4 linked regions of the Homo sapiens genome follow. The protein of the gene in region 1 interacts with the protein of each later gene in a biochemical or structural test. Each region holds a gene or a part of one and is shown in the gene's direction. Other genes may lie near its edges.

Region 1 (7,552 bases):
GACCATCTCTCCTTACCCACACCCGCAGAGAGAGGAGAGAGTTGGGGCAAGTCTTCTACTTCTCCAACCCCCAAATCCCAAAATGCCCTAACCGAGCTCTTCTCCTCCGTCTGATCTCTCTCCCACCCATCCTTGTGGTAGCTACGTTAAACTCACGTCTTCTTGCCACCTCCCCTTCTGTCCCTTTCCCCAGTCCTGGGGATATTCAATGCCACCCGATCACCTCTCCAGCTCTGCTTTTCAAACTCCGATCCCAGTCTCCTGTTTTGTTCCGCCCCTCCAAAGCTTCCCAATTTACTTGCTCTCACTCTCAGGCCTCCCTCAACACACCGTCTTCCCTGAAGCGTCTCCATCCACACACACACACACACACACACACACACACACACACACACACCTCTCCTACTGCACTACTCACCCTCAGATCTTGTAGGGACACATGTCCTAACTGAGGTTCCCCTCTGTCCCTTCTAAACCCTGCTGGGCCCCCACTGTCCCTTCACCAGCTCGCCCTCTAACCCCACCCCAGTCTCACTTTTGGGAATTCTCCTTTTTCTCCACTTCCCTTCCTTTAGTCTGCTAGAAACTTGCACTTTTACAAACTTTTCAGGGTTGATCCTAGAATTCTCATTACTTGCTAACAAGTTAATGTCTTCCCCTCTCAAAACCACCCCTCAACCAAAGAGTGCACGTGGGATTGGGGGTGGGAGTCAAGGAGGGAAGGGATTGGGGAGTTAAGGCTGGACCGGGGGAAAGGTGAGAGTTGGCTTCCAGGAATTTGGGTGGCTGAGGAGAGAAGTGTTCTTACCTTCACGAACAATTCGACCTGCGGTTGTTCTTCAGCCATGGTTGCGTCGGGGACCAGGAAGTGGCCGTCCCTGGGGGAACTGGGAGGGGCTGGGACCGGGGAAGGCGGGTCTCACACTCAGGGACTCTCTCCCCTAGACCCAGGGCTGTCCCTTCAGCACAACACAAGCTCAATCAGACCTACTTGCACCCAAACTAGGCCTCCCCACCAGCCCAACGCACCCCACACCCAGCTCCTCCAGCTCGGTCCTCTCCCGGGCTGGATCAGAGAGCCGCTGACTCACCGACCGGCCCCGCCCTGAACCTGGGGAGGGGACTGGAGGGGGGCGGGACTCGACGATGTAGGGAGTGAGTCCGGAAGGGGAATCCTCGGATCTCCCACAGGATGGGGATGGGGGTGTTAAGGAGGAGTCCTGAAAACCTCCTTGTTTCTCCGACCTCTCCTGAACACAGGACTCTTTTCTGCCTCAGTTTCCCTGCTTCATTAATCTGAGTACAACCCGACTGACCCTCATATAAAAAACTTGACACTAACAGCTTGGGCACACCCGTGAAGATTCAGGGATGGGGACTTCAAATGGAAAGGTGGTCGTTTAATCATTCTGCATTTCTTCCAGACTCCAATCCAAATTCTGGGTTGCTGGGACTGTGGTCTGAGAGAAGAACTCGGAAGTGGAAGGCTGGGACTGCAGATAGGAACCGTTAGCCATGCAGCCTGGGATTAGGGAAGGGGTGACGCCAGCACTCCCTGAGCTGCCCAGACTGGTGTCTCAGTAGGTCCTGTGCCCCCCGCAGTCTACTGTCTCCGGGCCCAGCTCAGCACTAGGACTTGCAGTCCTTGTGGCCTACACTTGGGATTGGGCATAGGAAATAGAGTTAGGGGCCGGGTGAGGTGGCTCACGCCTGTAATCCCAACACTTTAGGAGGCCAAGGGGGGTGGATCACCTGAGGTCAGGGAGTCAAGACCAGACTGGCCAACATGGTGAAACCCTGTCTCTACTAAAAATACAAAAATTTGCCAGGCGGGGTGGTGGGCACCTGTAATCCCAGCTACTTGGGAGGCTGAGGCAGGAGAATCAATTGAACCCGGGAGGTGAAGGTTGCAGTGAGCTGAGATGGTGCCATTGCACTCCAGCCTGGGCAATAAGAGCGAAACTCCATCTCAAAAAAAAAAAAAAAAAAAGAAGAAGAAGAAAAGAAAAAGAAAGTAGAGTTAGGGATGGGAAGGGAGATGACGAAGTCTTTTGCGAAGGAAACATAAAGCCGAGGCAAGGGGCTTTGTTGCAGGGAGGGGTCTGTTCCTGTAGCTTGGTCAGCTTTGTGCTTCCACTTATGTTTCCTATTGGGGCCCCTTCCTGTGCCCTTTGTCCTCGTCTCACTGACAGGTTGCCTTGGAGATGGGGCAGAGGGGTGGGATTATCATGGCCCGATCCTGAAGTATGTGTATAGGGGGTGGGGTAGGGGTGTTGTTAGCTGGTCCTGTCATGGGGATAAAGAAAGATCAGACAGAATAGTGGGAGTAGAGTCCTTGGGGACACCTAAATAAATAAGCAGGGAGGACATAGGAGGAGCAGCTCTCTCTCCAGTAACCTTGATTTCTATTAAACCTTTATGACCTGCTGAAAAAATAAACCCAGAATTCCAGCCTCCATATCCTGAATTTCTCTCCTGTCCAACCATCCCTTCTCTATCCTCCTCATCACCCTCTGTCCAACAAAAGACCTACAGTTCCAGAAAACCATGGTGGAGTGCAAGAACACAGAACTAAAACAGAGCTTGAAACTTAAAGAAAGGGAGAGACTTGGGGGAGGAGTGGGGTGGAGTGACGTGATGTGCTGCTGGAAACCAGCAGTTGGTGGTTTCCTCTTGTGCTTCCTCTTCTGTGGGTTTTCTCCTGCTTGTGGGAGGGCCTTTTTCTCTCCTCCCGACAGAAAGGCTATCTTTGGTGTTCGTTCCCTTGAACTGTAACATCCTGTAAGGGTATGATTCCATGCCTCTGTGTGGGTGTGAATTCCCTCATGGTGACCCTCAAAATCTGCACACAGGACCCCTTCCCATTGAGGGGAGGGGATCAAAACAACTCTACTTCTCAGGGTCCTCTCCTGTTCCAACTGGTCTGTGTCCAAGAGAAGCCTTAGGTAAATGGGGCCAGCTTGAAGATCAAACAGGTTTGGCAGCCTCTCCCGGCCTCTCTTTTCTCTCCTACAGCTTTATAGCTACAGCTGCCTTGATATCAATATTGACTTTGGCTGGCTGGCATGACTACCCACAGGGTATCGTGCCTTAATTTACCAGGTGACAGGCAACGCTGCCCTCTCCTGGAACCATCCAGCAGAGCCAGGGCTGTACCCCCAAATCCTGCAACAGAGGTTTCCCTCCATCTCACCTCCCTGTCCCTGCATTTCTCCTATCTCAGTAGCTCCTCTTTCCCTCTCTGGGCTTCTCTTTCCACTCCCTCCCCTTCCTGGGCTTGGTAAACTAGTCCCTAATCTCTTCACACCCCAGATTGGAAGGTGGGTCCCTCCCTGACACTCCCCAGAGCTGTCACCAACCTCCTCCAAGTTTCTATAGCTCCATTGCTCAACAGATTTGCCAGGGGTAACCATTAACCCAGCCCTTAACTCTGTTCCCCCACCTTTCTTGCTGGAGGGGATTTTCCAATTACTGGTTAGCACAGCTAGGTCATCTCACCCCCACCATCTTTCCTAACTTCTTGGGTTGGGGGGCTGGGGAGGAATCTCCCCATCTCAGGGTACTAGGAACAAAGCTGGGGAGGATGGTGCATTTAAAGGGATTATATATATATATATATATATTTTTTTTCTTTCTCCCTCATAACCCCACCCCCGCAACACACACACACACACACACACACACACACACACACACAGACGCACAAATAAGCTTTATGGAGCAGTGACTTCATTATGTTCACCGCTTTGAGTCCAACCCCTGGCCCAAAATAGGCACTAAATAGTTGCCGAATGCATGAATGATAGATACCTCTCTGTCTTCAGGGGTGTGTAGAAGTGCGAAGGGGTATGGGCATGTCCCAGTAGGGGTGTGAGTGTTCTGATCAGAACTACTTCTCTCTGCCAGAATTTGATGTAATTCGAATGCTTCCACCTCTGCTTGAAGGGTTTAAATAATAAATTAGGCCCTGTCGTGCCATTATGGGGGTGGTCATACCCTGTACCCAGGAAACAGGCACGGTAGGGCTGAGACAGAAGTCCTGCTTGTTTCCGCTTATTTATTTGAAACACCGCTCATTTAGGTCTTACTTTGTTTGCCAGGCACTGTTCTAAGCTCTGTATAAATATTAACTCAGAGGGTACAAATATTAACTTAAGAGTTGTTGCAGGAAAAAAAATAAGCGCCTCTGGCTCTTTAAGTTTGGCCTCCCCCTCAAAACCCCCGCAACGGTCCCAAACCCCTTCCAGGGACTGGGACTACGGACCCTGGTCCGACCTTCTCGCGGGCTTCCCACTGCGCCAATCAAATCCCAGAAACAGTGAGTGCTAGAGGCCCGGCTGCTAAGCAACGGCAGAGGGCGGGAAGTTTGAACGTTCTGGACCCGCCCCGAAGGCAAATAGGCCAATCAGCGTCCAGACTCTTCAGCTACGGCAGTCCGCTTCTCCTCCTCGCCCTGTCGGATCTCTAGGCTGGATCCGGGCCTCTCCAATCAACAGCGGTTAGGAGGGCGGGGCGCGTGCGCGCGCACCTCGCTCACGCGCCGGCGCGCTCCTTTTGCAGGCTCGTGGCGGTCGGTCAGCGGGGCGTTCTCCCACCTGTAGCGACTCAGGTTACTGAAAAGGCGGGAAAACGCTGCGATGGCGGCAGCTGGGGGAGGAGGAAGATAAGCGCGTGAGGCTGGGGTCCTGGCGCGTGGTTGGCAGAGGCAGAGACATAAGACGTGCACGACTCGCCCCACAGGGCCCTCAGACCCCTTCCTTCCAAAGGGTAACCTCCGCGTGACAGGAATGAGGGTGGGGCGCGTGGAGTTTCCCACAATCTGTACTTTAGTTAAATACCCGAGAATTCACCTCCTGTGTCCACAGCTCTCCACGCCCCTCAGCCCTGCCCCGCAGCCCTGTAGCAGAAGTACTTAGTGCTTTGCATTCTGCGCGCCACCCTACCCCGGCCTCCTCTGTGAATCGTTGCTTCCGAACCGCCCTCACTTTTTGCATCCGCAGAGCCTCCAAGCTCATGGCCTCCTTAGGAGCGAACCCAAGGAGGACACCGCAGGGACCGAGACCTGGGGCGGCCTCCTCCGGCTTCCCCAGCCCGGCCCCAGTGCCGGGCCCCAGGGAGGCCGAGGAGGAGGAAGTCGAGGAGGAGGAGGAGCTGGCCGAGGTCTCTGAGGGGAGTAGAAACTTGAATGGAGAGTTGATGGGAAGTTAGAATAAAAGAGGGTTGGGAGCCGGGCGCGGTGGCTCACACCTGTAATCTTAGCACTTTGGGAGACTGAGGCGGGCGGATCACCTGAGCTCAGGAGTTGGAGACCAGCCTGGGCAACATGGCGAAACCCCGTCTCTACTAAAAATATAAAAATTAGCCGAGCGTGGTGGCACGTGCCTGTTATCCCAGCTACTGGGAAGGCTGAGGCAGGAGAATCACTGTAACTCGGGAGGCGGAGGTTGCAATGAGCTGAGATTGCTCCACTGCACTTCAGCCTGGGCGACAGAGCAAGACTCCGTCTCAAAGAAAGAAAGAAAAAAAAAACAGGGTTGGGAAGAGCTGGGCAAGTCTCTTACCTCCTGAGTGGCTGTTTCACATTCACTAAATGGGGGTGATGATGCCTATCTCAGAGATTTGAGAAAATGATTAAATTATATAAGACATGGTAAACCCTACACTTATGAGTGATTCTAATAGTGATTTCCTTTCTTCCTTGCTGGACAGATCCATCTGTGTGTGCTGTGGAATTCAGGATACTTGGGCATTGCCTACTATGATACTAGTGACTCCACTATCCACTTCATGCCAGATGCCCCAGACCACGAGAGCCTCAAGCTTCTCCAGAGAGGTGGGGATGGAACCATGAATTCCTCTGCTCTCTGGGATTGCAGATGTGTTACACACACACACACACACACACACACACACACACACACACACACACATATTTTTTTTTTCTAGACAGAGTCTTGCTCTGTTACCCAGGCTCAAGTGCAGTGGCGCAATCTTGGCTCACTGCAGCCTCCACCTCCTGGGTTCAAGCAATTCTCCTGACTCAACCTCCCGAGTAGCTGGGACTACAGGCGTGTGCCACCACACCCAGCTAGTTTTTTGTGTGTGTTTTTAGCACAGACGGTGTTTCACCATGTTGGCCAGGGTGGTCTCAAACTCCTGACCTTGTGATCCGCCCACCTTGGCCTCCTAAAGTGCTGGGACTACAGGTGTGAGTCACCACGCCCAGCCATGTTTTACTTACATTAACTCACCTCACTGTCTAGCATATTTTGTGTTGCTGTAAGGAAATACCTGACTCTGAGTAATTTGTTAAAAAAAAAAAAAAAGTTTTATTTGGCTTATGGTTCTGGATGGTTGGAAAGCTCAAAATTGGGCATCTTCACTGGTGAGAGCCTCAGACTGCTTCAACTCATGGAAGAAGGGAAGGCAGGGTGTGTAGAGGTCACATGGCAGAGAAGAAGCAAGGGGGAGGGAGATGCCAGGCTCTTTTTGACAACCAGCTCTCTCAGGAACTAATAGAGTGAGAACCTCTCACTCATACCCACCAACACACTCCAGGAAGGGCATTAATCTGTTCATGAGCGATCCACTCCCATCACCCACACACCTCCTGCTAGGCCCTACCTCACAACACTATCACACTGGGGATTAAATTTCAACACGATATTTGGCAGGGACAAATCACATCCAAACTATAGCACTGACTCAATATATTTTACAGTTGCTTCACAGAGGCTCCCTCTTTTGTTTTTATGAATTCATTTCATTATTTAACAAATATTTGTGAGGCTGTTTTTTGGTTTGTTTGGTTGTTCTTTTTTGAGACAGTGTCTTGCTCCGTCACTCAGGCTGGAAGTGTAGTGGTGCCATCTTGGCTCACTGCAACCTCCGTCTCCCGGATTCAAGCAATTCTCCTGCCTCAGTCTCCCGAGTAGCTGGGATTACAAGAATCTGCCATCACGCCTGGCTAATTTTTATATTTTTAGTAGAGGCAGGGTTTCACCACGTTGGCTAGGCTTGTCTTGAGCTCCTGGCCTCCAGTGATCTGCCTGCCTTGGCCTCCCAAAGGGCAGGGATTATAGGCATGAGCCACTGTGCCTGGCCACAAATATATATGACGTATTTACAATGTTTCAGGTGCTTCAGATTCAGCCCTGGGCAAATCAGTCATGTCTGTTCTCCAGGGGTTTACAGCCTAGTGACAACATCCAGAACATCCCACTTCCCTCTCACCATCCCACCACTCTTAACTACTTTTCTAAATCTCAACTTCTACCTGTGTTCCCACTGTGCAGAGCACTCCCTACTCCTAGGGAGGAAATGTTTTTGAGAAGGAGAGGGGTAGGAAGAGGAGGGCTATGGGTTTTCTCTTAGTCAAAGACAAAGATCCTTTAACTCATTTGATCTCTGTTCTCCTTCCAAGTTCTGGATGAGATCAATCCCCAGTCTGTTGTTACGAGTGCCAAACAGGATGAGAATATGACTCGATTTCTGGGAAAGCTTGGTAAGGACTTGGTAAAGGATAGAGGGAAAATGGGGAAGGACTAATATA
Region 2 (7,025 bases), on another chromosome or scaffold:
CTAAATTCAGCCAGGCCTAGACTCTGGACCAGTGGAGCAGCTAATCCCCGGAGTAAGGAATATTTCATTTTTGAACCATTTTGGGCTAAGTGGAATATTAAATGAAGTTCATAAAAGGCGTCCTTCCTAATAATCACAGTCCCCTCTGAAAGAGAGTACTCATTGTTCCTCCGGGGCCAGCGCCCAGCAGTAATGGCCTCTTCCTGGGAGCCGCTGGCATTGCTTTTACGCAAACTCATGGGAACAACCAGTACATGGCTTTTGTTTTTTAGTGTGTGTGTCTTTTTTTCCTGCTTTCTCTTTATTATCTTTTCATTCTCCACTTAACTTGCTGTCCTCTGATTCAGGGATGTTTCCACAATTGTCAGAATTGTGTATGTGGAGGTCTAAATTAAGTGTCTTTGCTGTTTTAAACCCTGAAGTGTTTTGACCTTCAAATGTGCCACAATTATCTTGGTCTTCAAATTCTTTGCTGGTGGAAATGGCTTCCCAGCAAAGCGACGGCCTGTGCAGGACAGAGCCTGATGGGCTTTGCTGGCGTCTTTTATACGAGATGTTCTCCACACCACCACTGTGACCTTTCCTACCCAATTAGCTCAAGTATGAAACCTCTACATGAGATTTCATAGCAAGGAATAAGGGTAGCATGTGTGAAATGCTGGCGGCTCCTTGTAAGACAGATTTTCTATGCTCCATGAGAGCCTGATCCAGATACTCCTGGCTTTCAGGAAAGTGAATCCTCTGATGCTGCAAATTGAGATTGCTTGACTTCTGGTTTGCCTGGCACGGCCGGGTCCGTTCCTTCTTCATTCAAGCGAACTTAAAATGCTTTATCAAAATCCTCTTAGGCACAACTCTTCTGTATTTAATTTCACTCTTGTTGCTGACGATCAGGCTATCTCACGCAGCCATCACCTCAAGCTGCTGCCCCCTCTCATTCCGCTCTTCCCGTTTGCCTTGTGATTTCATGGTTAATGTTCATGAACCAAAGATTAGACTCCTACCTCCCTGGGAGAATCAGGAAGTGAGAGGAAGCAGATTATACAGGAGAGAGTTTTTTAGGATACATTTGGGTACACCTCAGGAAGAAAGAGGGAAGTAGGAAACACAGTTTGGGTAAAGAATGCCATGGGCTTTGTTTTATTTTGTCCCATCAAGTCTGAATAGGACAAGTGGAGATGCACTCTGATAGAAGTTTCTTGCAATCAAGGACTGGGCTCAGTGTTTGTCTCCGTGCCTGGCATAGAGTAGCAATAACTGCACTTACTATTCTCGACACTTCAATCAAAGCACTTAGCATATTAATTAATTACACTCACAGCAACCCTAAGAGGTAGGTGCCATTATTATCGTCTTCATTTTACGGATGAGGTAACTGAGTCCCAGGGTAATTAACTTGCTCCAGGTCATGAGGCCAGGGAGCCCGCTCCCAGCACCAGCCTCTCCCCATGTTGGGATCTCAGGGTGTGTTTGCTGAGAGGCTGGCACTGTGTTAATTGCCGTGGGCATTAATACAAACTTCCAGGGCATTGGACTCAATCTTTCCATTGTCAGCATTGCACCTTTGCTCAGCAGTGGTGGATTTGTGAAGTGGAAGGTTGGCCAGGAGCTCTCATGGGTGAACATTTTCCTTTCTTAGAGATCTTGCTGCCCGAAACTGCCTGGTAGGGGAGAACCACTTGGTGAAGGTAGCTGATTTTGGCCTGAGCAGGTTGATGACAGGGGACACCTACACAGCCCATGCTGGAGCCAAGTTCCCCATCAAATGGACTGCACCCGAGAGCCTGGCCTACAACAAGTTCTCCATCAAGTCCGACGTCTGGGGTAAGGGCTGCTGCTGCACTGAAGTGGTCCTTCCTGACTACAGGAGGGTTTTTTTCTGCCTCTTTCTTGCTCTTCCCTTTCTTTTCTTCCTTTCTTTTTGTTTTTTTGAGACGGAGTCTCACTCTGTCACCCAGGCTGGAGTGCAGTGGTGCAATCTTGGCTCATTGCAGCCTCTCCCTCCCGGGTTCAAGCGATTCTCCTGTCTCAGCATCTTGAGTAGCTGGGATTATAGGCACCCGCCACCACACCCAGCTAATTTTTGGTATTTTTAGTAGAGATGGGGTTTCACCATGTTGGCCAGGCTGGTCTAGAACTCCTGACCTCAGGTGATCTGCCTGCCTTGGCCTCCCAAAGTGCTGGGATTACAGGTGTGAGCCACTGTGCACAGCCACCCTTTTTTTTTTTTTTTTAACTGTGTATTTGGCCTGAGGTCCAAATATGGTGCACAGTGTATCTGCTGATCTGTTAAGTCTCCTCTATAAGCCCCCTCTCCATGTCTTTATTTCCCTTGCTGTTTATTGAAGAAACCATCCTTAGAGTTTCGTACGTTCTGGGTTTTGCTCATTGTCTCCCATGGTGTGATTTAATATGTTCCTCTGACTTCAGTATTCCTAGTAATGGGTGGCTGGATCTGGAACGGCCTCATCACATTCAGGTTTGACTGTTTCTCTTTTAGTAAGAGTGGATCAGGGGAGATGGTGTGCCCTTCCATCAGTAGATACAAAATGCTTCATTTATTTCCTTCCTTCCTTTCCTCCCCTCTCCCTCCCCTCCTCTCTTCTCCTTCTCCTTCCGACGGAGTTTCGCTCTTGTTGCCCAGGCTGGAGTGCAGTGGCACGATCTTGGCTCACTGCAACCTCTGCCTTCTGGTTTCAAGCGATTCTCCTGCCTCAGCCTCCTGAGTAGCTGGGATTATAGGCGCATGCCACCACCCCCGGCTAATTTTTGTATTTTTAGTAGAGACGGGGTTTTACCATGTTGGCCAGGATGGTCTCCAACTCCTGACTTCGTGATCCACCCACCTCGGCCTCCCAAAGTGCTGGGATTACAGGCGTGAGCCACCACGCCTGGCCCCAAAATGCTTGATTTGCTATCGTTTTTTTGTGGGGGTTTTTTTTTGAGTAATTTTTGGCAGTTACTGATATACAGTGCCTAGATCCAATAGTTTGCTAGGTATTGCCAGGTAGGAATTCTCTAATTCTGTCATTCCTGTTAAGTTACTAGTGGAAACTTGTATGAGGAGAAACAGTTCCTCATCTGTGTGGTTACTCAGTGGTACAGTTCATGTAGGAAGAGCAGGGTCAATTCTTGCTTCTTTGTTTTTATTTACCAGTTTTTAAAATAACAAATTACTTTTTCTTTTTTTTTTTTGGAGCCAGAGTCTTGCTTTTTCTGGGGTACAAAGTACAGGCTGGAGTTCAGTAGCATGATCTCGGCTCACTGCAACCTCCGCCTACCAGATTCAAGCAATTCTTCTGCCTCAGCCTCCCAAGTAGCTGGGATTACAGGTGCCTGCCACCACGCCTGGCTAAATTTTTTTGTATTTTTAGTAAAGATGGGGTTTCACCATGTTGCCCAGGCTGGCCTTGAACTTCTGAGCTCAGGCAGTCCACCTGCCTTGGCCTCCCAAAGTGCTGGGATTACAGGCGTGAGCCACCATGCCCTGCCACAAGTTGGTTTCTTTTTTTTTTTTTTTTTTTTTTTGAGACAGTCTCACTCTGTCGCCCAGGCTGGAGTGCAGTGGCATGATCTCAGCTCACTGCAAGCTCCGCCTTCCGGGTTCACGTCATTCTCCTGCCTCAGCCTCCCGAGTAGCTGAGACTATAGGCGCCCGCCGCCACACTCGGCCAATTTTTTTTCTATTTTTGTAGAGACGGGGTTTCACTGCGTTAGCCAGGATGGTCTCGATCTCCGGACTTCGTGATCCGCCCACCTTGGCCTCCCAAAGTGCACAAGTTAGTTTCTTAATACCCTTCAGTGGTGGCCAATTAGGTTTTTGCTGTCATTGGTGGTATTATGAACTCTCAGATTTATATATATCTGATGTGTTTCAGTCCACTGCGGTTATTTTCCCTGTTGATATTCAGATTGTCTCGTCTTTGGCCAGTGGGAACTTCACATTAGCTCCTAGTCATTTTGACATTAACTTTGTAGTTTTCCATGACGTCCGCGCCCTCAAATGACAAGCTATTGCAGGTTCATTCTGTGCCCCAGGCCTGAATCACCCATTTCTCTAAGGAATCTTATCCTTTAATGGGAAATGGAATTTTAAGGCAATAATCTCAGATTTCAAAACTTTCAAAGATTTCATAAGATTTTTATGAAATGTTTAGAGTTAGAAGGGGCTTTGGAGATAGTCTTGTGCACCCAGAAAGCAGTGGTGGCCGGTTAGGCACAGAGCTGGTTGGTCACAGAGCTAAGAGTTAACATGGCCAGCTGACTTCCGGCGCCAGGTTCCTTCTACCACATATCCCAGCAAGATGGTCACATTACCTAAAAGACCCCACAGGGTCTGAAACTCATCATCTGCCCTCCTCTAGCATGTTTGTGGGGTAAGTTTACTGAGTCTTGTTCTGTCCTGGTCTCCTTTTTTTTTTTTTATTTTTGAGACGGGGTCTTGCTCTGTCGCCCAGGCTGGCGTGCAGTGGAGCAATATCAGCTCACTACAACCTCCGTCTCCTGGGTTCAAGCAATTCTCCTGCCTCAGCCTCCAAAGTAGCCAGGACTACTGGCGTACACCACCACACCTGGCTAAATTTTTTTTTTTTTTTTGAGATGGAGTCTCGCTCTGTCACCCAGCCTGGAGTGCAGTGGCGCGATCTTGATCTTGGCTCACTGCAAGCTCCACCTCCTGGGTTCACACCATTCTCCTGCCTCAGCCTCCCGAGTAGCTGGGACTATAGGCATCTACCACCACGCCCGGCTAATTTTTTTGTATTTTTAGTAGAGACAGGGTTTCACCATGTTAGCCAGGATGGTCTCAATCTCCTGACCTCGTGATCCGCCCGCCTCGGCCTCCCAAAGTGCTGGGATTACAGGTGTGAGCCACCGTGCCCGGCCCCTAATTTTTGTATTTTTAGTAGAGATGGGGTTTCGCCATGTTGGCCAGGGTGGTCTTGAATTCCTGACCTCAAATAATCCTCCCACTTCAGCCTCCCAAAGTGCTGGGATTACAGGCGTGAGCCACCGCACCCAGCCTTGTCCTGGTCTTCTGATGATAAAGAGCCTGGTAAAATGTCAGAGCCTGGGCTGCTGCTGGGGCCATCCCTTCTGAGGTCTGCTGCAAAGGTAACTGATTTTAAATGTAGTGTAGTGAAATGCTACACATCTTGAACAGCCTTTCTCTTTCGGTTTTCTTTCAGCATTTGGAGTATTGCTTTGGGAAATTGCTACCTATGGCATGTCCCCTTACCCGGGAATTGACCTGTCCCAGGTGTATGAGCTGCTAGAGAAGGACTACCGCATGGAGCGCCCAGAAGGCTGCCCAGAGAAGGTCTATGAACTCATGCGAGCATGTAAGCCTTCCTCAGCCTGTTCTCACGAGTATATGTGGGCATTCCAGGAAATTCAACTGTGCAGGAGTGTGTACACAAAGTTGAAAGTTTTTCCATGAGCTCTCTCCATTCCAGTTCTTCAGATGCAGCTAATGTAGCCATTTGCTACCTATTGACCTTTATTTACAGATAAATAGTATGTGCGTGACTTGTCTTTTAAAGCAAAAATGGTATTGATAGATACCAAACCTGGGTGTATTCCTAAATACAGATTCCTGGGCCCTGCTTTCACAGACATTCTGCTATAGTAGCTAAGCTCATGAGGTGATTTTTTTTTTTTTTTTTTTTGAGACGGAGTTTCGCTCTTGTCGCCCAGGCTGGAGTACAATGGCGCAATGTTGGCTCACTTCAACCTCCACCTCCCTGGTTCAAGCGATTCTCCTGCCTCAGCCTCCCAAGTAGCTGGGATTACAGGCATGCACCACCACGCCCGGCTAATTTTGTATTTTTAGTAGAGATGGGGTTTCTCCATGTTAGTCAGGCTGGTCTCCAACTCCCAACCTCAGGTGATCTGCCTGCCTCGGCCTCCCAAAGTGCTGCGATTACAGGCGTGAGCCACCACGCCCAGCTGCGAGGTGATTTTTATCTGGTCGTTTTATACTGATTACATATGTGTTATCTGTACTATGCACACACAGGATGTTTTCATATATCTTATAAGGTATTTATATGGCCATTTCTTACACTGTTTTCCCACACATGTCTTTCCACGTCCATATATTCAGATCTCTCCCTCTCCCTACCTCTTATTTATGTATAGCTGCCCAGTACTCCATTTCACTCATTCATCCGGTCCTCTTTTGATGTGCATTTGGTTGTTTTACACATTTGTTTGGTTTTTGCCCTTATAAACAAAGCAGAAACAAATATTCATGTACACGAATCTCTGGGCACTTTGGCTGGTATTTCTAAAAGTTGAACTGTTGGTTCCAAGAACTGTGTGGGTTTTAAATTTTGATACATTTTACCAAACTGTTAAAAAAGGTTGTGCCATTGTATGCTCCAGTCAGACGCATATGGGAGTGACTGTTCCTGGTCCCCAGTACTAGGCTTTGTCAGTCTGTTTAGTCCTCATGTTAGTCTCATTTTCATGAGAATTTCTTTACTTCAGACTTTGATAACCGTGAAGAAAGAACAAGATAGAAGGTGAGCTGTTTGGCTTAGTAATTTTCTACACCTACTAGAGCGGGACTGGGAAAAATATATTTGTAAATGCAGTTCTTGCTGTCACTGTCTCTCTGGGGTTTTACAATCCATATTCCTGCCAGCATCTAACGTCTTTTCAAATTCTTAATGTCTATAACAGGACATGATGACATTCATCGTTTTGACTTGTTGCAGCAAAAGATGGTTAGCAGGATTGGAATGTTGCTTTCATTCTAGACTTTTCCTTGAGAACTGCTAGCCCCGTATTGCTAGCCAGATCTCATGGATGATCTGACTTGGGTTTCATCTGTCCAGGTTGGCAGTGGAATCCCTCTGACCGGCCCTCCTTTGCTGAAATCCACCAAGCCTTTGAAACAATGTTCCAGGAATCCAGTATCTCAGACGGTAAAGTACCCATCCCGGGGTACCTGCAGTGGGGTGAAAGGGCAGCCATGTGGGACTGCAGCCTGGGTCATTCGGTTCACTTCCTGGTGAAAGTTC
Region 3 (7,025 bases), on another chromosome or scaffold:
GTTTTCCAATTTGTTGGCATATAGTTGTTTACAATAGTCTCTAATGATCCTTTGTATTTCTGTGGTATCAATTGTTATGTCTCCTTTTTCATTTCTGATTTTATTTGGGTCTTCTCTCTTTTTAGTTGGTCTAGTAAAGATTTGTTTGTCTTTTGTATTTATTTTAGTTTCAACTTCATTTATTTCTGCTTTGATCTCTATTATTTCTTTTCTTCTACCAATTTTAGGTTTGGCTTGTTGTTTTTGCTTTCCTAGCTTTGAGAAGTACCACGTTAGGTTGTTGTTGTTTTTTTTTAAATGTTTCTACTTTTTTGTTGTAGGTGTTTATTGCTATAAACGTTTCTCTTAGCAATATGTTGCTGTATGTCATAGATTTTAGTATGTCATGTATTTTTTTCAAGAATTTTTAAATTTTTCTTTTTAATGTCGTTATTGACCCATTGATTGTTCAGGGGCATGTTGTTTATTTTCCATGTATTTATATATATAGTTTCCAAAAGTTCATTCTGTTATTGATTTCTAGTTTTATTCCATTGTGGAATAAAATATACTTCATAGGGTTTCGACATTTTTGAATTTATTGACACTTGTTTTGTGGCCTAATGTATTGTTTATCCTGGAGACTGTTTCATGTGATGATGAGAAGAATTTGTATTCTGCAGCAGTTGGATGAAATGTTCTGCAAATGTCAGTGAGGTCCAGGCAGTCTAGAGTGTAGTTTAACTTCAGTGTTTAATTGTTGATTTTCTGTTTGGATGATCTGGCCATTACTGAGAATGGAATGTTGAAGACCCCTACTAGTATTGTATTGCAGTCTATATTTCTCTTTATATCTATGAATTTTTGCTTTACATATTTGGATGGTCCACTGTTGGGTGAATATATATTTATAATTGTTATGTCCTCTTGCTGAATTGACCCCTTTATTATTATAGAATAACATTCTTTGTCTCTTTTTACAGTCTTTGACTTGAAGTCTATCTTATCTGATATAAACATAGCTACTCCTGCTCTTTTTTGGTTTTTATTTATCTGGAATATCTTCTTCCATCCCTTTACTTTTAGTCTAGTATGACTTTGTAGGTGAAGTGAGTTTCTAGTTAGCATCATACAGTTAGATCTTATTTTATTTCTTTTATTTTTTTTGAGGCAGAGTTTTGCTCTGTCACCCAGGCTGGAGTACAGTGGCTTGATCTCAGTTCACTGCAACCTCCACCTCCCAGGTTCAAGCGATTCTTCTGCCTCAGCCTCCCAAGTAGCTGGGATTACAGGCACCCGCCTGTACACCCAGCTAATTTTTGTATTTCTAATAGAGACAGGGTTTCACCATGTTGTCCATGCTGGTCTTGAACTCCTGTTTTTTTAAGTCTTGTTTTTTTAATCCATTTAGACACTCTTATGTCTTTTAATTGGAGAATTTAGGACATTTACATTCAATACTATTACTGATAAAGACTTACTGCTACCATTTTGTTACTTGTTATCTGGTTGTTTTGTAAGTGCTCTCTTTCTTCCTTTTTGATTAAGTAATTTTTTCTGGTAGTATGTTTTAATTCATTGCTTTATATTTTTAATATATATAATATATATACAATATTATATATATTATATATAATATATACATATTATATATTATATATATATAATATATAATATGTATATATTATATATAATATATATAATATATAATATATTATATATTATATAAATTTAAATATATATATTTTAATTTATGATTTTCATGAGGCTTATAAAATATTTTATAGCTATAACACTTTATTTTAAACAGATAACTACTTAGTTTTGACCATAGAGAGAAGAAAGTAACAAACAATGGAAAAACTGAAACACTCCGTACTTTAACTTCATTCCCCTGACATTTTGATTTTTTCTTGTCTCAATTTACACCTTCTTATATTGTCTATTTCTTTAAAGGTGTCTGTAGTTACTATTTTCATAAACGTGTCTTTTTTTTTTTCTTTTTTTTTTGAGATTGAGTCTCACTCTCTTGCCCAGGCTGCAGTGCAGTGGCGCGATCTTGGCTCACTGCAAGCTCTGCCTCCTGGGTTCGCACCATTCTCCTGCCTCAGCCTCCTGAGTAGCTGGGACTACAGGCGCCCACCACCACGCCCAGCTAATAAATGTGTCTTATAGTCTTTATGTTAGAGATATGAGTAGATTACACATCACATTTATAGTATTAGAGTATTCTGAATTTATGTACTTACATTTAAACTTCAAGTTTGTTTGTTTGTTTGTCTTTTGCATGTTAGCATTCTTTCCTTTCAGATTTAAGAGCTCCCTTTAACATTTCTTATAATATGGGTCTAGTAATGATGCATTTCCTCAGCTTTTGTTTGTCTAGAAAAGACTTTTTCTCTCCTTCATGTTTGAAGGAAAGTTTTGCTAGGTATAGTATTCTCAGTTTGCAGTTTTTTTCCCTTCAGCACTTTGAATCTGTTATTCCACTCCCTCCTGATCTATATGGTTTTTGTTGAGAAGTCTGTTGCCAGATGAATTGGAGCTGCTTTATATGTTATTTGCTTCTTTTCTCTTGCTGCTTTTAGGATTCTCTTTGTCCTTGACCTTTGAGAGTTTGATTATTATATCATTTGGCTTGTCTTATTTGGGATGAATATATTTGGTGTTCTGTGACCTCTTGTACCTAGATATTAACATATTTCTCTAGGTTTAGTAGGTTTTCCATTTTATTCCTTTAAATAGGCATTCTACTCTTTGCTCTTTCTCAATTCTCTCTTGAACACCAGTGAATCTTAGATTTGCTCTTCCACGGTGTATCTCTCTCTCTCTCTCTCTCTCTCTATACATATATATATATATATATATATATATATATGTATAAAATCTTTCAGGCTGTCTTTATTCCTTTCATTCTGTTTTTTTTTCCCTCTGACTATATCTTGGCTTACTGCAACCTCCGCTTCTTGGATTCAAGTATTTCTTGTGCCTCAGCTACCCAAGTAGCTGGAATTACAGGCATGTGCCACCGTGCCTGTCTAATTTTTTTAGTGAGACGGGGTTTCACCATGTTGGCCAGGCTGGTCTCTAACTCCTAGGCTGAAGTGATCTGCCTGCCTCAGTCTCCCAGAGTGCTGGTATTATAGGCATGAGCCACTGTGCCTGGCTAATCTCACTGATTCTTTCTTCTGCTTGATCTATTTCTTTTTTGGAGAGCCTCTGTAGTTTTTTTAAGTTCAACAAATGTATTTCTCAGTTCCAGGGTTTCAAATCTGTTTGCCATTTGATTTTTAAAAACTTTCATCTGTTTTTTTTTTTTTTTGAGACAGAGTCTGGCTCTGTCACCCAGGCTGGAGTGCAGTGGTGTGATCTCAGCTCACTGCAACCTCTGCCTCCTGGGTTCAAGAAATTCTGCTGCCTCAGCCTCCTGTGTAGCTGGGATTACAGGTGTGCACCACCATGCCTGGCTAATTTTTGTATTTTTAGTAGAAATGGAGTTTCACTGTGTTGGCCATGCTGGTCTCAAACTCCTGACCTCAAATGATCTGCCCACCTTGGCCTTCCAAAGTATTGGGATTACAGGCGTGAGCCAATGTGCCCGGCCAAACTTTAATCTCTTTATTAAATTTCTCTGATAAATTTATCAGTTGCTTTTTCTGTGCTGTTTTAGAGTTCATGAATTTTCTTAAAACTGCTATTTTGAATTCTTGATCTTAGAGCTCACGTATCACCATCTCACCACGATGTTGATCACCAGCTCCTTGCTTTGTTCATTTGGGGAGATCATAGTTTCCTGTTTGCTCTTGTTCCTTGTGGATATATATCTATGTTTTTGCAATGAAGGATCAGTTTATCTTCAGTGTCTCGCTTGTTGGACTTTCTAGGTTGTATGTTTGCTTAGAAGTTCTTTGCAATTGTCTGTGATTCCCCTTAATCCTAGATTGCTGCCTCATTTTCAGCACTAGATGGCACCTTAAGCCCAGAATTTCCTCAGCTCTGGCAAATGTTTGCAGTACTACACATCTCAGATGGTAGGGTTCTTAGAGGGGATACCTCAGCTGTGTGGAAAGGCTGGCTAGGGGTTTATACCCAGATGACCTGTGGCATCTGCTTCCTCTAGCATGGTGCTGCTGTACATCCACACTGATTTGGTGTCTCCTTCGACTGAAATGAGGAGTAGTTTTACAGGCTGGAGTTTCTAATTCCACTCCCCTTTTTGTCTCTAGCTGCCCTCAGGCGGTTTTCTCCCTCCAGGCACTAGTGGTGCTTCCTGTGGGTTTAGGCAGGAATGATTTTTCTGCAAGGGAACCCAGGATGGTGGGGAAGCTGGCTATCCACCTCAATCTCACTTTTTCCAGAGTAGAACAAATGAGATTGGGAGGAATTTTCTGTGCATGATGCCTGGCAGATTGGGGCACGGACATTGCAGATAGAGAACTTTCTTTCTTTTTATAGTCTGCTCAGAGTTTTTCACTTCTCTGTCTCCCAACTATCATTTCAGCCTCAGATTTGGCTTCTAAAATGTTGCTGGTGTTAATCTGTGCTCCAGATATTTGCTTTTGGTTCTCTGTGGGGAGAGCAAAGGCAGACTGCTTCTACTCTGCCATTTTGTTGATATCCAGAATTGTATTTTTTTTTTTTTAGTATATACTTTAAGTTCTGGGATACACGTGCAGAACGTGCAGGTTTGTTACATAGGTTTACATGTGCCATGGTGGTTTGCTGCACCCATCAACCCGTCATCTAGGTTTTAAGTCCCGCATGCATTAGATATTTGTCCTAATGCTATCCCTCCCTTTGCCTCCCACCCCCTCCCCCCGCTGACAGGCCATGGTATGTGATGAGAATTGTATTTTTTTCTTTTTATTTATTATTTAGCTTCTTTTACGATAACTCTTTTGAAACAGTTTCACTCTTCCTGTACTCTCAATCACTTCACTTTCTACAGATAATCTGCCTCCTACTTTTTAACAAATTTGAGGTCATCTTGATGAGTTCTTGAACCTCCCCTCCTTCAAAATTTTGTTTTGAATATTTCTGTTTTTCTTCCATCTCTCTTCCATCTTATCTCAGAGGAAGAGACTGACTTTCAGACAGAAGGTTAACTATTCTACCTTTTAAAAAAATCTCCACTAAGTTATTATTACTTCTCAGTTCCCTTTATTCTCTTTTGCATCTTTAATATTTTCGTCACAGGCTTTTCCTTTTTCTAAGAGTATGCTTAGATTTCTCCCCTAAAATTCTGCCTGTTTACTCTACTTTTCAAACTATTATTTCATTTTCTTTTTACTGCAAACTTATCAAAAGTAACCCATGCTTGCTTCTTTCATTTCTCATGTTTAAACTGAGTCTTATTGTCATCACTCTCCCCAAAGTTTTCTCTTAAATACCAACTAATTATAAAATCCTTTGTCCTTCTTTTCACTTCTGATCTTCCATGATCTCTCTATGGCACTTGACACTACCCTTGTTTTCTCTTTTCTTAATTCTGCCCTCTCTTGGCTATGTGGAATTATTCTCTCCTGGATATTTTCATTCTCCTACCTGTTTGATTATTTCTTCTGTCCCTTCTTCACTAGTACTTTTTCTTTTCTTTTTTTTTCTTTTTTTTGAAACAAGGTCTCACTGTGTTGCCCAGCCTGGTTTTTAACAAATTCCTGGGCTCAAGCATTCCACCCGCCTCTTCCTCCCAAAGTGCTGGGATTACAGGCATGAACCACCGCACCCAGCCATCATCATTACTTTTTCTTATTCCACTTACTAAATATAAAAGTTTCTAAGATTTTTGCCCTTGTTTCTTTTCTTTCTAAAATCTGCACTTGGTGATCTCATCTTTTCTCACAGCGTCCATCATCATTTCTGTTCAACTCTGAATCTATATATTTTTCTCCATATTTCTCCTACATATCTTAATCTATGTTTAAAAGCCAAAGTTAAATTTATCATCTTCTAAAAAAAACTCTTATCTCTTCACCTTTAAGTCTCCCAGTGACTCACCAAAGTCATATATGGATCATTCCTCTTAATCACCTGTCATTAGGACTATGCAGTAAGTTCTCTCTCTCTCTCAATCTATTTATATACACTTCTACCAGATTGTCTCCTAATGCATAGTTTTTATTATGTAGTTTGCCTACTCAGAAACTTTTAATGATTTATTACAAAGTAAAGTTGAACTCCTTTGTCTAGTGTAAAAAGTCCTCTGTAATTCTCAAAATATATTTTAGAATTACCTGCATTAGAATTGCCTGAGATACAGGGTACCATACTAGATTGTCAAGGATCTTCTGTGGCTCAGGGATTTGCCTTCTTAACCAGTTTTTACGTGATTGTAAAGCTTATTGGCTTCTGCTTCATGATTTTCCTTTGTTTTCTACACCTCCCTTACATAATATCACTCGGTTTCACGTAATCTACATTTCTGCAATTTCAATCTTGTAAATTAAATTACTTGTCATTACTACATTGAATTACTTGCCATTTCATCATATTGACCTGATTGTGTACCATGCTTTCAAATGTACCTGCTCTAACTGTTTCCTCTGTGGAATACCCCCTCTTCTAGGCTGTTTTATCTATCAGGATTAATTTCAATACTCCATCCTATTCAAGCTTTTCTTGGCCTGAGCTGGAAGTGAGTTTCCCTTCCTCTGAGTATTTTATGGCTGTTTTATGGGACTTTTCTTAATTATTATAATCAGTTGCTTACAACAAGCCTTTTGTTTTTTTAACCATTAAGACTGTAAGCTCCTTGAGTTCTGTTATCATGTGAGGTTTACATTTTTGTATCCCCCATAGATATATAAACGTAAGCTTAGAGGCCTGGAACATAGATGATAGTAGATATTCAATAACTTTCTTAAAATAATAGACTAATTGGTAATTGATCTGTGTACCAAATAGATAGATGGGTGAATATATGGTAATCTTATTCTACCTCATAAAATCTTACTCATTTTTCCTATAGTGAAAAGTAAAAAAAAATCTGGAGTTGCTTGCTATTATGAGTTGAAGGGATTATATTTCAGGGAAACTCACTAAGACTT
Region 4 (7,025 bases), on another chromosome or scaffold:
CTTCGGTCCGTCTGATTCAGTCTGTCTGGCTCCTCCCTCATTTTTGCCACTGTTGAGCTCTCTTACTTAGTTCTTCACATCCACTCTGGCTCCCTTTCAAGCTGCTCTTCTCTCAGCACCCAGAGGAATCTTTTTGAAACATCCCTCCAAGCATGTTGTTCTTCTAACTAAAATGTGTCAATGATGACCCATTGCTCTTGGGATAGAAATGTGATTTTTTACTGTGGCCCACAAGGGTCTTCGTGATTTGGCCCCTGCCTGCCTCTCCAGTGTCACGTCATATCACTCTCCACCTTGTTCTTTACATCCCAGCCTGCTTTTTTGGTCTTCTGCTTCCTGTGTGCTAAACATTTGTCAGCGTCGGGGCCTCTGCACTGGCCTTCTCCTCTACCTGAAACACTTTTCTCTCCTTCTTCAATTAGCCACGTCTTTCTTAACCTAAAGTCTCAGCTTGAATACTACTTTGCCAGGAAAGCCTTCCTTAAGCTCCTAAACTGGGTTTGGTCTTCCTATTATATATTCATATCCTGTATTTTATAGCACCTATATTTATCATTTAAATTATTGTATAATTATCTGCTTCATGTTTGTCTCCCCTATTAGACCATAAGCGCCATGAGGATGGAAATTATCTGTCTCACTAACTGCCTGACAAAGCTCCCAATACAAAGTATATACTTAATAAATATTTGTTGACTGGGTAAATTGTGCATAAAGGCAGGTTATAACAATATGAGAGTTTAGATTAGGAAGATTATTATGGAAATTAGAAAAAAAGAAGCAAATAAAATGAACATTGTAAGGAAACAATCAGAGATTGCTATTGGACGATCCATGGAGAAAGATAACCCCAACTTCACAAACCCATAAAGAGTAGGCAAAAATACTGCTCTTGCCTCTTGGAGAAAAACTCTGAAAGCCAGATCCTAACAAGTTAAGGAATGCCTCCTACAGAGATTAGAAATACAAATACTCCGTAAGAAAAAGCTGAGAGACAGAAGGTCAGTCCTGAAGCCTTAGTTTCATCCATGGTCATAAGCACTAATTTATTTCCCTCTTTTTTTTTTTTTTTTTTTTTTTTTGAGAACGGAGTCTCGCTTTGTTGCCCAGGCTGGAGTGCAGTGGCGTGATCTCGGCTCACTGCAACCCCCGCCTCCTGGGTTCAAGTGATTCTTCTGCCTCAGCCTCCCAAGTAGCTGGGACTATAGGCGCGTGCCACCACACCCGGCTAATTTTTGTATTTTTAGTAGAGGCGGGATTTCACCATATTGGCCAGGCTGGTCTTGAACTCCTGACCTCATGATCTGCCCGCCTCAGCCTCCCAAAGTGCTGGGATTACAGGTGTGAGACACCATGCCCGGCCTATAAGCACCAATTTCAAGCAGGATTAAAGCTTCATTAAAGAAGCCTAAGAAACATGTTACTTTTTCCAGATATTTGGCAGTGACCCAAGGTCAGCATTGGTTTCCCACTATATACACTATAACCTTCTTGTTTCTGTCTTTCATTTAGGGGCCATTAAGTTTAATGATGGCCTGAGCTTACAGGAAAGTTGCCGCCTTATTGAAGCTCTGTCCTCATGCCAGCTGCCATTCCAGTGTGCTCACGGGAGACCTTCTATGCTGCCGTTAGCTGACATAGACCACTTGGAACAGGAAAAACAGGTACATTAATGACTAACAGGAGCAGGAGGGAGCAAAGTTTATTTTCTCTTTCTTTTCTGGCTTTTACTATGCAACTGTAATCTGTCTTAACCTTTCCAAAATAGGAGAGTTTTGCAAAATCTGCACTGGAAGTTTCACATAAAGCCTCACCCATTTCATTTTCCAGCTCAAATCCAAAATGGAACTTAGACTGAACTGTCAGGTCACCTACATAATGGCTTTGTATTTTAAAACTTAACACATGTACAGACTTATGTACCCTGAATATCTATTGCCTGCTGGCTCTAGGTTTCATAATATGCAGTTCTTTCTGAAGCTACTGAAAGTTGGTAGAAGCACAGCAAATTCACTGTTGGCAATATAGAGCCTCAACTTCCAGTTTCTTGATAGTACCTGCTGGAAACGGTGATCTGTGACTGTAGCTGGCCATCCCCAAGGATCTTGAGTTATGGTTTGAGGATCATCAGACAGGGACCCAAGCTTGGGGATCTCTACATTATGCTTTGGCCCTAATTACCCAGCAACCTGCAAACTACAATGTGGATAATGCAGAAAAGGCACAGAATGGCTTAAATGAAGAACTTCTGTCCTTGTTATAATCTTCAGTGAAGGAGAACATGGAGAACATAACAGGAATGTCCCTGTTGCTGCTTTCCAAAATCTTTCCTTTTTTTTTGTTTTTTGAGACGGAGTTTTGCTGTTGTTGCGCAGGCTGGAGTGCAATGGTGCGATCTTGGCTCACCGCAACCTCTGCCTCCCGGGTTCAAGCAATTCTCCTGCCTCAGCCTCCCGAGTAGCTGGGATTACAGGCATGCGCCACCACGCCCGGCTAATTCTGTATTTTTAGTAGAGACAGCGTTTCTCCATGTTGGTCAGGCTGGTCTCGAACTCCCGACCTCAGGTGAACTGTCCACCTTGGCCTCCCAAAGTGCTGGGATTATAGGCATGAGCCACTGCGCCCTGCCCAAAATCTTTTCTTTTGCTAACCTTTCCCTGCTAAGGGATATAAAATCTTTTCTTGCATGGAGTTTTCAGGTACTAATGTTGTCTGACTCAACTAGCTGATTTTACTTCATTAAAACCTCTTTGTTTCACAAAGAAAAATATGAAGAAAGTTTTTCTCCATTGCTGAGAGCTGGGAATCTAGACTTAAAGTTCTGAGTCCCCTTGGATCCTTAAAACAATCTGTAATCTCTATTGAATCCAGAAGTTAGAAATCTAAACAGATTATAACAGCCAGACTTTGGAAATATTTGTATGCTACCTACATTTTCAATTTTTTTTTTTTGAGACGGAGTCTCACTCTGTCGCCCAGGCTGGAGTGCAGTGGCATGATCTTGGCTCACCACAACCTCCGCCTCCCAGGTTCAATCAATTCTCCTGCCTCAGCCTCCTGAGTAGCTGGGATTATAGGCATGCGCCACCACACCCGGCTAATTTTTTTTTGTATTTTTAGTAGAGACAGGGTTTCACCATATTGGCCAGGCTGGTCTCAAACTCCTGACCTTGTGATCCGCCTGCCTTGGCCTCCCAGAGTGCTGGGATTACAGGTGTGAGTCACCTCGCCCAGCCTGTATGCTACCTACCTTTTCATATTGCTAATTGAAGTTATTCTTTCTTCCCATAGATTAAACCCAACCTCACTAAACTTCGCAAAATGGCCCAGGCCTGGCGTCTCTTTGGAAAAGCAGAGTGTGATACAAGGCAGAGCCTGCAGCAATCCATGCCTCCCTGTGAGCCACCATGAGAACAGAATCACTGGTCTAAAAGGAACAAAGGGATGTTCACTGTATGCCTCTGAGCAGAGAGCAGCAGCAGCAGGTACCAGCACGGCCCTGACTGAATCAGCCCAGTGTCCCTGAGCAGCTTAGACAGCAGGGCTCTCTGTATCAGTCTTTCTTGAGCAGATGATTCCCCTAGTTGAGTAGCCAGATGAAATTCAAGCCTAAAGACAATTCATTCATTTGCATCCATGGGCACAGAAGGTTGCTATATAGTATCTACCTTTTGCTACTTATTTAATGATAAAATTTAATGACAGTTTGATTGGTTGCTTGGTTTGTTATTTGAAGGGTGTGATTTTTGTTTTTGTACAGTTTTTTTTCAAGCTTCACATTTGCGTGTATCTAATTCAGCTGATGCTCAAGTCCAAGGGGTAGTCTGCCTTCCCAGGCTGCCCCCAGGGTTTCTGCACTGGTCCCCTCTTTTCCCTTCAGTCTTCTTCACTTCCCTATGCTGCTGCTTCATGTGCTACATCTCAGACTTAAAGAGTTTCTCTACTACAGTGAAAACATTCTCTAGGGTCTTTCATCAGGCCTTTAGTTATTTTAGGGATAAAAACTATTGATAAAAAGGACAAGGATAGAACAGAGAAAATTTAAAGTCCTGTTCCGGGTTTTTTGTTATGTTTTCTTTAAAAACTCAGAGACTGATGTTCAATATCCCAAACCAGTAAAATGGTGAAAATACTATGAGCTTGTTTTTTAAAATATGATTTTTTTTGGTACTTTATAAAGTATCTCTTTATGTGAAAGCAATTGTCATATCAAAACACAGCATACATACGTTCAACCTAACCAAATATCTTTACACTTTTTCTTTCAGGAGACAAGGGTTCTTTGGGTCCCTTTCAAACGGTATCTTGGTGTTATTACATTATGCCTATCTATTGCCCTTATAATATCACTTGGGACCAGGACTGATCGTTCTGCAAATGCTTGTTATGCCATTCTCAATCTATTTTTCCCGCACCTTTTCACATGATTTGTGGTTAATAGGACTCAACAGACTAAAATTGCATAGTAGAAAAAAAATGCAAAAAGCCAGCTGGTAATGTTTATTGCAACTGGGGTGCTATACAATTAGTAAGATGATGCAATGAGAATTTCTACTTTTGTATTTCCTGACCAGCCTGCTCAAAGTGGCTTTTATATCAATTGAATGATTTTCCTCATTTTTTAATACAGGAAACCAATTCGTGCTCATGGAAGAAAAGTTCCTTTGCCAGCAGCCTTGAAGTGAATCTTACAGGAGCAATGAAAGTATTGCATTCATTAGCGTCTGCCCCAGAGAAGGTTCAGAGAAAACCTTCACTTGTTTTCAAGGGGATCCTTGTAGATTTACGTAATTGGAATCCTGAAGAACAGGCCCTACTGTCTAAAAAATGGCTTTTATTCTTCTAAATACATATAAACGGATGTTTTATAGATGGGAAGACATGACCTTAGAAAGGAGAGAGTTTTCAGAGGATTTGCCAGGCTGTCAGGGGCTCTGCCTCCAGGCCCAGTGTGGCAGTGTGGCCTCAGGGCCTCCGCCTCCCTGCTTGAGGGCTGCATGGAGGCCAACTGTCCTGGGAGTTGTAAAAATCTTTTAAGGCCAGACCAATTTGAGGGATTTTAAAAAGTGTCTCAGTGCCTCTTATGATTTCAGAAGGTTTTGCTATATGTAATCCCAACTACTGTTTTCTTGAGAGTAGCAGAGGATTAGAAAAAGTCCTCCATAAATTATGTAACCGGCCTTCCTGACTAGCCTGACTCAAGCAATGTAAGAGATAATTATTCTGTTTTCATAATTTATAAGTGTGGGGGCATGCCTCAGCATAAAAACAACCTATTAGGGAAAAATATCTAATAGATTACCTTTATCGCCTGTTAGGGTTTTATGTTGTTTTTAACTCAGATGCCATAAGAACAAAGATACATGTAATTTATAATAGTAATCATTAATACCTATATTGTGCTTTAAGGTTTACAAAATAATTTTTCTCATACTTTATCTTAGTTTAGTTTCTTGACAGTCCATGAGGTAAGGTGGTAGCTTTATCACCATTTTACAAAGTGGGAAACGAAGGTTCCTCTTAGGAACCTAGTTGTCACCTTTGTATAATAAAACTTCGAAGCTCGGAGCTGTTAACTGGTTTGCTGAAGGCTTAGCTGTAAGAGCCAGAATTCAGACCCAGGTCTGAGTGACTTCAAACTGCACAGTCCTTCCCATTATTACCCATATGCTATCCCTTATATTTTTAATTTATTAGGAATTCATTCATTTATAAACTTGGTGATTCACCTTTATTAGATTCTGGTCGCTGAAGGCTTTAGTAACTTCAGAGTAAAACTTGAGAGATGAGATGTAAAATGCAGCCATTCTTGAGAGTTCCTTTTTCTGTAACATTCATCAACACTTCATTGAGAAGTGAAGGTTCCTATGGCTGTCTCTACCTTCAAGAGGCTTAGCTTTAGTCACTGAGAAAGACAAGGAAACTAATGATAGAATATAGTAGCTTCTTCTGGCGTTAGGTATCACAGAGTCACAGCTAGTTACAGCTAGCCCTTTATTATTGAAAGAAGAGGAGCTAGCAGTCCCACTATCAGAATTAAGACTAGAGATGGTAATAGGAGCTAGTATCAGAAAAGCTTAAGGCAAAGCATAAAGTGTAGGCTAGAATGAAGCTGGAGAATGGGGAGGGGGCTTGGGTAACATCCAGAACCTGGCTGGGGACCTGGAACTACATGAGATGTAAGAATGGAGAGGTTCTAGCAGTCAGAGGTCAGGTACAAATGAACAGCTGGGATCTGCGCATGGCAGACAGTGAAAAAACCCAGGCAAGCAAAATGGTCAGAGCAGAAAGGGGCCCAAGGCCACGTTCTTGAGATGTGGAGGGGGCTGAGGAAGCCACGCCAAGTAAGGACAGATGCAGCTCAGCAGTTCCTAGCGAGCCCTGACAAGCCAGCTCAGCTGAAGCTTCGGGTGGGAGCCAGTCATGGCACAGTGGAGTGAAGGAAGAGCAGTTTCAGGCACCCAAAACCTGACCCCCACGACCTGTTTTCCACCTGAAGAGCCACCCATTCCATCCAAACCCTTGGCAAAAGTCTGCTAACAGAGAGAACCGGCCAGTATGCTGGCCAGTCGCGATCATGCCTGTCTTTACCCTCTAAGCTGAAGCTGCTCATCAACGGTGAGATGGCAAAAAGGTGGGTCCAGAAGAGGGGAAAAGAAGGGAGTCTGTGAAAACAAAATGCTGAAGAATCTGCATCAAATAAACCCTTCCTTCCTTCCTTTTTCCTTCCATCCCTCTCTTCATTCAGCAAATCTTCAGTGAGTTCCTTTCTAAATGTATTGTATCAGAACTTGTGGGGGATATAAAGAAAAAAAAGAGGTTATCACATGGCTTAGGATGTTTCCAACCCTTGGATCATTTTCACCCCAGGCCCATTAGTTACAGAGCACTCAGTCTTACCCAGAAGCATCGGATATAGTCCAGGCAACCGGATCCAAGCGTGTGGGAATCGCAGTGTGCTGCATGTGGGAATCTATCAGGCCAGGATGATTCAAGCAGCAGCCTGCAGAAGTGGGATTTGGCCA

The links.
Region 2: the proteins of MSH5 (region 1) and ABL1 form a complex in vitro, tested with the Homo sapiens proteins (one study listed by BioGRID).
Region 3: the proteins of MSH5 (region 1) and MSH4 form a complex in vitro, tested with the Homo sapiens proteins (2 studies listed by BioGRID).
Region 4: the proteins of MSH5 (region 1) and MLH3 form a complex in vitro, tested with the Homo sapiens proteins (one study listed by BioGRID).

Annotation. Positions count from the first base shown.
Region 1 is NC_000006.12:31,735,454-31,743,005, forward strand, and holds the start of MSH5 (mutS protein homolog 5), read left to right. Parts: upstream 1-4,551; 5' UTR 4,552-4,609; exon of another isoform or gene 4,610-4,767; intron 4,768-5,000; 5' UTR 5,001-5,013; coding exon 5,014-5,160; intron 5,161-5,709; coding exon 5,710-5,833; intron 5,834-7,423; coding exon 7,424-7,504; intron 7,505-7,552. Other genes in the region: CLIC1 (chloride intracellular channel protein 1), read right to left, coding at 809-847.
Region 2 is NC_000009.12:130,873,229-130,880,253, forward strand, and holds part of ABL1 (tyrosine-protein kinase ABL1), read left to right. Parts: intron 1-1,639; coding exon 1,640-1,824; intron 1,825-5,186; coding exon 5,187-5,339; intron 5,340-6,839; coding exon 6,840-6,929; intron 6,930-7,025. UniProt on the Homo sapiens protein: Non-receptor tyrosine-protein kinase that plays a role in many key processes linked to cell growth and survival such as cytoskeleton remodeling in response to extracellular stimuli, cell motility and adhesion, receptor endocytosis, autophagy, DNA damage response and apoptosis.
Region 3 is NC_000001.11:75,904,863-75,911,887, forward strand, and holds part of MSH4 (mutS protein homolog 4), read left to right. Parts: intron 1-7,025. UniProt on the Homo sapiens protein: Involved in meiotic recombination. Required for reciprocal recombination and proper segregation of homologous chromosomes at meiosis.
Region 4 is NC_000014.9:75,013,468-75,020,492, reverse strand, and holds the end of MLH3 (DNA mismatch repair protein Mlh3), read left to right. Parts: intron 1-1,512; coding exon 1,513-1,664; intron 1,665-3,291; coding exon 3,292-3,411; 3' UTR 3,412-6,718; downstream 6,719-7,025. UniProt on the Homo sapiens protein: Probably involved in the repair of mismatches in DNA.